3 separate regions of the Homo sapiens genome follow, and regions 1 and 3 are each linked to region 2. Evidence: fine-mapped expression QTL. A gene starts in region 2. Each other region holds a variant in brackets. All regions are shown on one strand. Distances are between the middles of the regions. Region 1 holds the start of TRK-CTT8-1 (tRNA-Lys (anticodon CTT) 8-1). Region 2 holds the start of ZNF213 (zinc finger protein 213). Region 3 holds the start of TRK-CTT5-1 (tRNA-Lys (anticodon CTT) 5-1).

Region 1 (2,757 bases), 29 kb before region 2:
CTGTGGAGGGCCTGACATTAGTCAGGTCTGGAGGCCTAACCGTCTCCCTGTGATGCTGTGCTTCAGCAGTCACGCTCCTGGTCCACTTTCATGTTCCATCCTGTACACCTGGCTCTGCCTTCTAGATAGCAGTAGCAGAATTAGTGAAAGTATTAAAAGCCTCTAAAATGCAGAAATAATGGCGTAAGCTGTCTTTCCTCTCTCTCTCTCCTCCTCGGGTGCCATACAGGGAAGGGCCCCGTCCAGTGGACATGTGACCCACGTGACCTCACCTATCACTGGAGATGGCTCACACTCCTTACCCTGCCCCCTTGCCTTGTATCCAATAAATAACAGGGCAGCCTGGCATTCGGGGCCACTACCGGTCTCCGCGTCTTGGTGGTGGTGGTCCCCCCGGGGCCCAACTGTCTTTTCTTTTATCTCTTTGTCTTGTGTCTTTATTTCTATGGTCTCTCATCTACATACATGGGGAGAAAACCCCACAGACCCTGTAGGGCTGGCCCCTACATTGACCCACAGTCTCAGCTGAACTGGGTGGGAGGGCCCTTCTCCCTTGGCTGAACTTGGAAGCAGCACATCCACCTCCAGCCCTGGGACTGAGTCTCCTGGGGGAGGGAAGGAAACTTTGGGTCTTGTGCTAACGTAAAGGGATCCAGGTTCTCTACCCCAGCCTAGGGTGAGCAGACAGAACTTCCTGGGGTGCAAATCTCCTATTCCTTTTCCCTAAGAGACTCTGGTTCTCGGACACCGGCTGTGAGAGATAACACAGCAGTCCAGTGGTCAGATTGATGAATTTGGGAGGAGGCCTTGAAACCTCTGATGGGGACACAGATTGAGTTGGGACTCAGTGAAACTTTACCTTCCAGTTAGGGGCCAAGCTTCGGAAACTGGGTCACCTGCGATGATGCTGAATTCTGTGTACCAAGAATGGTAAAAGCTCCGCCCAACATGGAGCTCGAGCCCACGACCCTGAGATTAAGAGTCTCATGCTTTGCCGACTGAGCTAGCCAGGCTGATGTAATAATACTTGCTTCCCACCCTAATACTCAGAATCCTCAAAACAGGCGCTGCAAAAACAAAAACAAAAACAAAAAAACAAAGGCTGTGGTGACTCTAGTCCCGAGGAGGTGGTGCAGGGATGGCTACCCGCGGAGCCGGCCTCTGGCATTCAGACAGCTGGGTGCACAGTCCCTGCCGGGGTCTCCGGACATCTGGGAGCCCCTATCCTCCCCTTCTCAGCGAGTTGTGTAACCTCAAACCCGAGCCTCCAGTCAGGTGGAATTTGTAGTCAGGGACCATTAGCCATGGGTGGTCCTGAGTGGGAGGCGGGGAGGAAAGGAACAACCTCTCTCTGGGGCCCAAGTGCGGATCCGAAGGGGCCTGGGTCCACGCTTCGCTGCCAATATAAATCCCAATTCCTACTTAATATTGAGCCCAGCCTCTGCATATCTCCAAACCGTTTCAAATGACCCAAAGAACCTGCCTCTTCCCACTCCCCTGCAGATCTGC[A/C]TGCACGGTGGAGGCAAGCGGCTCATGACAGAGGTTTCTCCATGTTGGTCAGGCTGGTCTCGAACTGCCGACCTCAGAACTGCCGACCTCCGGTGATCCGCCCGCCTCCGCCTCCCAAAGTGCTGGGATTACCGGCGATCCCGGCTGCTGGTCTGCGCTGCTTCTGCATTAATGATCAGTGCGGGGTCAGGGGGCCAGCGGAGGCCGGGAAGGAGGGACTGAAGCGAAAGAGTAGAGCAGCGGGGTAGGGTCTGTCCTGAGTGTGTGCCTCACGAAATGGACCCTCTTGTCTTGGGACCCAGTTCTTCCTCGCCTCCCCTTCCCTTCCTTAGATCGGAACAGGAACTGCAGGGCGGCCTCTGTCAAGCACATCTGTGAGAAGAGACCACCAAACAGGCTTTGTGTAAGCAGTAAAACTTTTTTAATCACCTGGGTGCAGGCGGACTGAGTCCGAAAAAGGAGTCAGCGAAGGGAGATGGGGAAGGGGTTGCTTTGTAGGAGTTGGGTAGGTAATGGAAAATTACAGTAAAAGGTGGTTATCTATTGTTAGCAGAGGAGGGGGTCACAAGGTATGTGGTAGGGAGGTCATAAGATTTATTGTCCAAAAGAAGAATGTCACAAAGTCGATTGATCAGCCAAGGTAGGGCAGGGACAAGTCACAGTGGTAGAATGTTGTAATGTTGGTTAATCACTTAAGGCAGGAACCGGCTGTTATACTTCTTTGTGGTTTTTTTGGCTTCTTCAGACTTCTTGGCTCCTGCAGGCCATCTGCACGTATATGTGCAGGTCACAGGGGTTATAATGGTTGAGCTTTAGGCTCAGAGGCCTGACACCTCGACCTGTGACCCAGGGCCCAGCAGCAGCCTCGCGGCCTGGCCGTCATCGGCCATCGGCCCAACTTCCTCTTTGTCCACAAGGGGAGCAGTCTCAGGAGTCCCTCCTGCTCCCAGCCAGGGAGTGTCATCGCAGACCTGGTCATTCTCAAAGCCTGGAAAATCCCAGCTTGAAAATGTCAATCAGGCCGGGCGCGCAGGCGCGGGGGCTCACGCCTGTAATCCCAGCACTTTGGGAGGCTGAGGCGGGTGGATCACCTGAGGTGAGGAGCTGGAGACCAGCCTGGCCAACATGATGAAACTCCGTCTCTACTAAAAATACAAAAAATTAGCCAGGCGTGGTGGCACCCGCCTGTAATCCCAGCTACTCGGGAGGCTGAGGCAGGAGAATCACTTGAACCCCAGAGGCGGAGGT
Region 2 (2,757 bases):
TTTTTTTTTTACTGAGAGAGAGTCTCACTCTGTCGCCCAGGCTGGAGTGCAGTGGCGCAATCTCAGTTCACTGCAACCTCTGCCTGCCAGGTTCAAGCGATTCTCCTGCTTCAGCCTCCCAAGTAGCTGGGACTACAGGCACCAGCTACCACGTCCAGCTAATTTTTTGTATTTTTAGTAGAGACGAGGTTTCACCATGTTGGCCAGGATGGTCTCAAACTCCTGACCTTGTGATCCACCCGCCTCGGCCTCCTAAAGTGCTGGGATTACAGGCGTGAGCCACTGCGCCCGGCCTAATTAAAAAATTTTAACTGATATGTTTCATTATTTAGTGTTGCCCCAGATCCCTCTGGAGATGTGCTTGATATATCGTCTGTGCACTATATTATCTTTCTCAAATTTGAAAACCTCTGAATTCCAAAACACATCTGGCCCTGAGGTGTCACAGAAGGGCTTACAGACACCATCCAAAGCCATTTATCCACAGGTACATATAAATGTATGACACATTTATACCTTACATTGTTACTCTCTACTGAAAAGTGTATTATGCAATTTTCAGTAATCGATTTTTTGTTTCAACAATAAAAATACAAACTGGCCGGGCTTGGTGGCTTATGCCTGTAATCCCAGCATTTTGGGAGACAGACACAGGATGATTGCTTGAGGCCAGGGGTTCAAGACCCCTTTGGGAAGACAATGTGAGACGCCATCTGTACCAAAAAACAAAAAAAGCCAGGTGGGGCTCCTGTAGTCCCAGCTACTGGGGAGGCTGAGGAGGAAAGATTGCTTGAGTCCAGGAGTTTGAGGTTGCAATGAGCTATGATCGCACCACTGTACTCCAGCCTGGGCAACAGAGTGAGACCATCTCAAAAAAAAAAAAAAAAGAAAGAAAAGAAAAGTAAAAAGAAAATGAAAAAAATACAAACCATCTTAATAAAAAAGGGAAGATTCAAACAATATAGAAATCTGTAAAACTCTCCCTTCCTCAATACCATTGTACCCCCCGACTTAACAGTCTGACAAATGACGTCCCAGACCTTTTCCTGTGCTTTTACTAAAAAAGTCATCCATAGCGGGGAGAAAAGGTGCTTGATGTGTTTCTACATAAATGAGACCTTACTGCACAGACATTAGCGGCACTATGAGCTTCCGCGGTATGGATATGCTCTAGTTTCTTAATCAATACTCGAGTGATGCATTCGGGTTGTTTCCAATTCTTTAGTCCATCCTAAGCACTTTATTTATTCTGCTCCTCACAAGACCCCTGAAAGGTGCGCGCACCATTCTCATCCTCTGGTGACTTCGAAGAAGACTTTCCTCGAAGAGGGCCAGGACTCACCAGGGTCGCTCAGCAGGACACGGCAGGCGGGAAGGCGAGCCAGCCGGAGCCCCGCGCTGTCCACCGCAGCCTCGCCCGCGGGGCGAGCGGCGATCGTACAGGGGCGTCTGCCGGGGGACCAAGCTGGCAGAGCGGCGCGGGGGACCAGCACTTCCTAGCAGTGCGCGCGCCCTCCGGCCTCTGCCTCGGGGCGCTGATCCCGGCCACTCGGAGCCCGGTGCTTGATGTTGGAGCCAGGCGGCCAGAGGCCCCGTCCCCGCCCCGGCCCCCGCCCCCGCCCCCGCCCCCGAAACACACAACGCCCACTACGGCCCAGGAGATCCCACTTCCGCCGCGAGCTCCCGGCGCCGGAAGTCCTCGCGGGGCTCGCTGGGAAACTACGCTACGCAAGCATTCCCCAGCTCCCAGAAAGCCGTTCGTCCACTGAGCCCGCCTTCTCCATGACCGATGGCCAATGAACAGGAAGAATTCTCAGGCTGCCTATTAGAAGACAGAAACTCCATACGCGTCATACACCTGCACCCGGGAGGAAAGGCGAGGCTCTGCATCTAGATTTACCTCGTTCTCTTTTGTCTCCGCTTTTTTTTCACATTTCCTTGCGACCCTGGCCCTTGAGCGACAAAAAGGGGAAGCCAAGGCTGGCCCGAGGAACGGAGAGGGCACATGGCCTAGCCACAAGTGGAGCTTCTGCTCCGCCCGAAGGGATGCGCTGGAGCGGCCTCTTCCTTCTGCCACGGTCTTTCTTTGCCAACTAGTAGGTGAGGGCCGAAAGGCCGCGGGCCGTGGAGCTCGGGCCGGGGAGACTCTTTTCTAGCCTCTTGGGTCCCGCTCCTCCCAATTCCCTGGAGAGGCGTCGAGCTTGCTGGGAAGTGCCCTCGGGTAAGGGGCGCGGAGCCTCCTGCGGCGATCCTCTGTCTTCGGGTCGCCTTAGCAGGACGCGGCAAGCGGGACACTGACCTGGCCGGAGTCCCGCGTTCTCTCACCAGCTGCTTTGTCCACGAGTTGCTGCTGGGCGTCAGGGGTCCCACGGCCCGGAGGGATCTAGAGCAGGGGGGCTCGGGGTCCTTTCCATACCCTCGGATCCTCTCCCACTCTCTCCACGCCTCGACCCGGAGATGATTTCAGGCTCCAGATCTCTTTCATAAATGGAAAGAGTTTTTTTGGTTTGTTTTGTCTTAATTATGTAGGTGTTGCATGCTTGGAAGAGAAAATTTAGAAAATTAATTGGAAAACCATAAAGATAGCTTTCTCGTGATAGCCACAAGGCTTGCTCCCTCATTCTGCTCATATGTCACCCCCTCAAGGAGGCCTTCCCCAGCTCTGTAAACAACCTGTGCTCGGCGTTAACTTTTCTCCCTAATGTTTATCACTACCTGACATATACGTGTTTCCCACGACTCAACGATAAGTGTTCA
Region 3 (2,757 bases), 45 kb before region 2:
CACCTTAAAAGCTCTACACTGGGATTCCCACCCAGTGTCCCTGGCTCCGGCGGCTAGAGCCTTAAGGAGAGAAAGCCGGGCACTTGAGCAGAGGAGATGGGCTATGGGCGTTTGTATCTGGGGTCTAGAGTCCTCTCCCTCCCCACATCCCGACACTCCTCACCTGCGTGTAGCCTTCTGGGGCTCCTCTCCTCCCCTATCCTAGTTCTGGAAGGGGTACAGACTGAACCCAGGAACCCGGGTATCTGCGTCCTGAGTCCCAGCGCCCACCAGGACTGGGGCCTCCTCACATCTACTCTGAGGACAGAATCTATTGGCAGAGTCTTCCTTTTTGTTTGGGATGCTGGGTTTGAGAACATGCCGGGAACCAAGAGTCGTGACTAATCCAATTTTGAGCGCTTGAGGACCAAGTGGAAAGAAACTCAAGCAGATTTAAAGTGACCAATGTCTGGTTATGCCCTTGAGCCCCTGCAGAAGCAAACAATAATTTTGTGTGTGTGTGGACAAATACATTTGTATTCCAGATCTCACAGAATTTCCTACACAAAGAAATTTGCAAGGAAAATGGACATTGCACCCTAAAAATTAACAAGGAAAGAAGGTACCAGGAGCAACAACTCATTAACAGGAACAGAAACAATATTGCAAATATTTCAGATGCAAAGTGTATCCGACTTATAATACAACTGTCCCTACTGTGTCTAAAGAAATGAAAGGCAATAAAGAAAATATCTTTGACATCAGGACCTCCAACCTTCTTGATTGAAAAAAGAACCAAATAGTTCTAGATATAGAAGCACACGGTAATGGAAAGGGAACAACTAGATGCACGCCACAGTAGGTTACAGTGCGGAGCAGCACCTGCGAGGGCTTCTGTGAGTCCCAGTGAGCTTTGGGCTTTCTGTCTGCAGCTGCAAGGATGGCCCATACACAGCAGAACTCTCCTGTCCCTGTAACTCAAGTGGCCTCAAAAAAAAAAAAAAAAAAAAAAAAAGGGTTGCCAAGGTTGTCATTGACTCTTTAAGTGCGTGCAGTCGCAGTCTGAGAATGTTTTTTCTCTTTCTGAAAGAAGGCCTTTTCAGAGGAGGGCACGGACTGGGAGAACACAGATATATGCCGGCGCGGTGACGAAGGAGACTCTGGCAGGTCACCCCCATTTATGGGAGATTGCGGGGTGGTGAGGGAAATCCTGCACTAGCGGGGACGTCGGTGGCGAACTGAGTCTGTTGTGGGGGACCCCAAGCGCGCCCTGGTTTCCCGGGGTGATTCATTACCTCCCTTTGTTTCCACCACCCTTAGGCCACTCGGCCCATTTGTAGATATGGAAAAGATCCTATAAGGAAGCCCGGCTAGCTCAGTCGATAGAGCATGAGACTCTTAAT[C/T]TCAGGGTCGTGGGTTCGAGCCGCACGTTGGGCGTGCCTTTTGCTGTACCATGAAGGTACATCTTTTTCTCCCAGCTTTCTGCCCCTGGCAATGCAAGACTTGGTGAAAGAAGAAACTCAAGCAGAAGATTTAAAGTGACCAATGTCTGGTTATGCCCTCCCCTGCTTATTCCAGAAAGCCATCCTGGCTCCTGCCCCATGGATGCGGTTCCTACCTGGAAGACCAGGAGAACAGTAATTCCTCGCTCCTTGATAGCAGAGGCCCTGGGGAAGACCCCCACTAGGGTTTTCCTTTTCTGGGATCCCAACAGGGCTGTCCTCATTAAAACAGAAGAAAGTCTGAGAACCTTAGCTTGTACAGGATTGGACTCTCTTGTACCCTAAGCAACAATCATAGCCTGGACAAGGAGCCACCTACAAAACCTTTCTCTGCTTATCTCCCATCGTCCTTATGCCTGGCTCCACCCTTGTCCAGCAACACTGCCCAGATGCTGATCCCCAGGGGGTCATGTCAGGTAGAGTTTGACTCAGGTCCCATCAAGTAGAGGGGGATAGAGATCCCAATGTTCACTAGTTTGACAGTCCCAGTGTCTGGCTTTCCTGCCTTCCTCTCTGATTAGAGGCCTCCAGCCCAGGGAGGTGGGTGCCGGATCCTCCCAGAAGTGCCCAGTGCAGCCGGAGGGAGCAGCTGTGGTCTCCTGAGTTACCCAACCTCCCTCCACCCGGACCCTCTGGGTGCATACAAGATTTCACTGGATCTCTGCTTGTACGGCCAGCGTGGTGCTGCTGGTACCTGCTTGCAGAGTTGTGAGGCTGGTGACGGTGACCCAGGGGGCAGAGATTAGGATGTTCAACATTAGCAGTAGACGTAGCTAATGCTTATTAGGCTCACCATGCCTAACACTCTTGTAAGCTCTTTACTTATCTAAACTCGTTTAATCTTCACTACTATACTCTTATTATTGCATTTTCAGACAAAATTGAGGAGCTGGGATGGAAACATGGAAACCCAGTCAACCTGCCACAGAATGTGCCCTCCCAACCCCAGCAGGTCAGGGAAGCGGACGGCAGGGAAGAGAAGGTCTGCTTGACTTGGTGTCGGCATTCCTGGGGCAGTGAGGTTTATTGACTGATTGATTTACTGATTGAGATGAGTCTCGCTCTGTCACGCAGGCTGGAGTGTGGTGATGGGATATCCGCTCACTGCAACCTCTGCCTCCCGGGTTCAAGGAATTCTCCTGCTCAGCCTCCCTTGAGTAGCTATGATTGCAGGAACGCGCCACCACGGCCGGCTAATTTTTGTATGTTTTTAGTAGACATGGGGTTTCACCATGTTGGCCAGGCTGGTCTCGAACTCCTGGCCTCAGGTGATCTG

The links.
Region 1: its variant is fine-mapped to the expression of ZNF213 in fibroblasts (GTEx, PIP 0.97).
Region 3: its variant is fine-mapped to the expression of ZNF213 in whole blood (TOPMed, PIP above 0.99).

The regions. Positions count from the first base shown.
Region 1 is chr16:3,163,194-3,165,950 of GRCh38, reverse strand. TRK-CTT8-1 (tRNA-Lys (anticodon CTT) 8-1) reads right to left here and starts at 1,013; the gene lies at 941-1,013. RefSeq lists an enhancer at 1-23. The variant A/C (reference allele first, on the strand shown) is at 1,510.
Region 2 is chr16:3,133,973-3,136,729 of GRCh38, reverse strand. It overlaps ZNF213 (zinc finger protein 213), which reads right to left and starts at 1,701. Exons shown (of 6, transcript NM_004220.3): 1 at 1,343-1,701. It overlaps ZNF213-AS1 (ZNF213 antisense RNA 1), which reads left to right and starts at 1,848. Exons shown (of 6, transcript NR_110900.1): 1 at 1,848-2,100. RefSeq lists a silencer at 1,411-1,640 and enhancers at 1,751-1,940, 1,951-2,120.
Region 3 is chr16:3,179,213-3,181,969 of GRCh38, reverse strand. TRK-CTT5-1 (tRNA-Lys (anticodon CTT) 5-1) reads left to right here and starts at 1,344; the gene lies at 1,344-1,416. The variant C/T (reference allele first, on the strand shown) is at 1,383.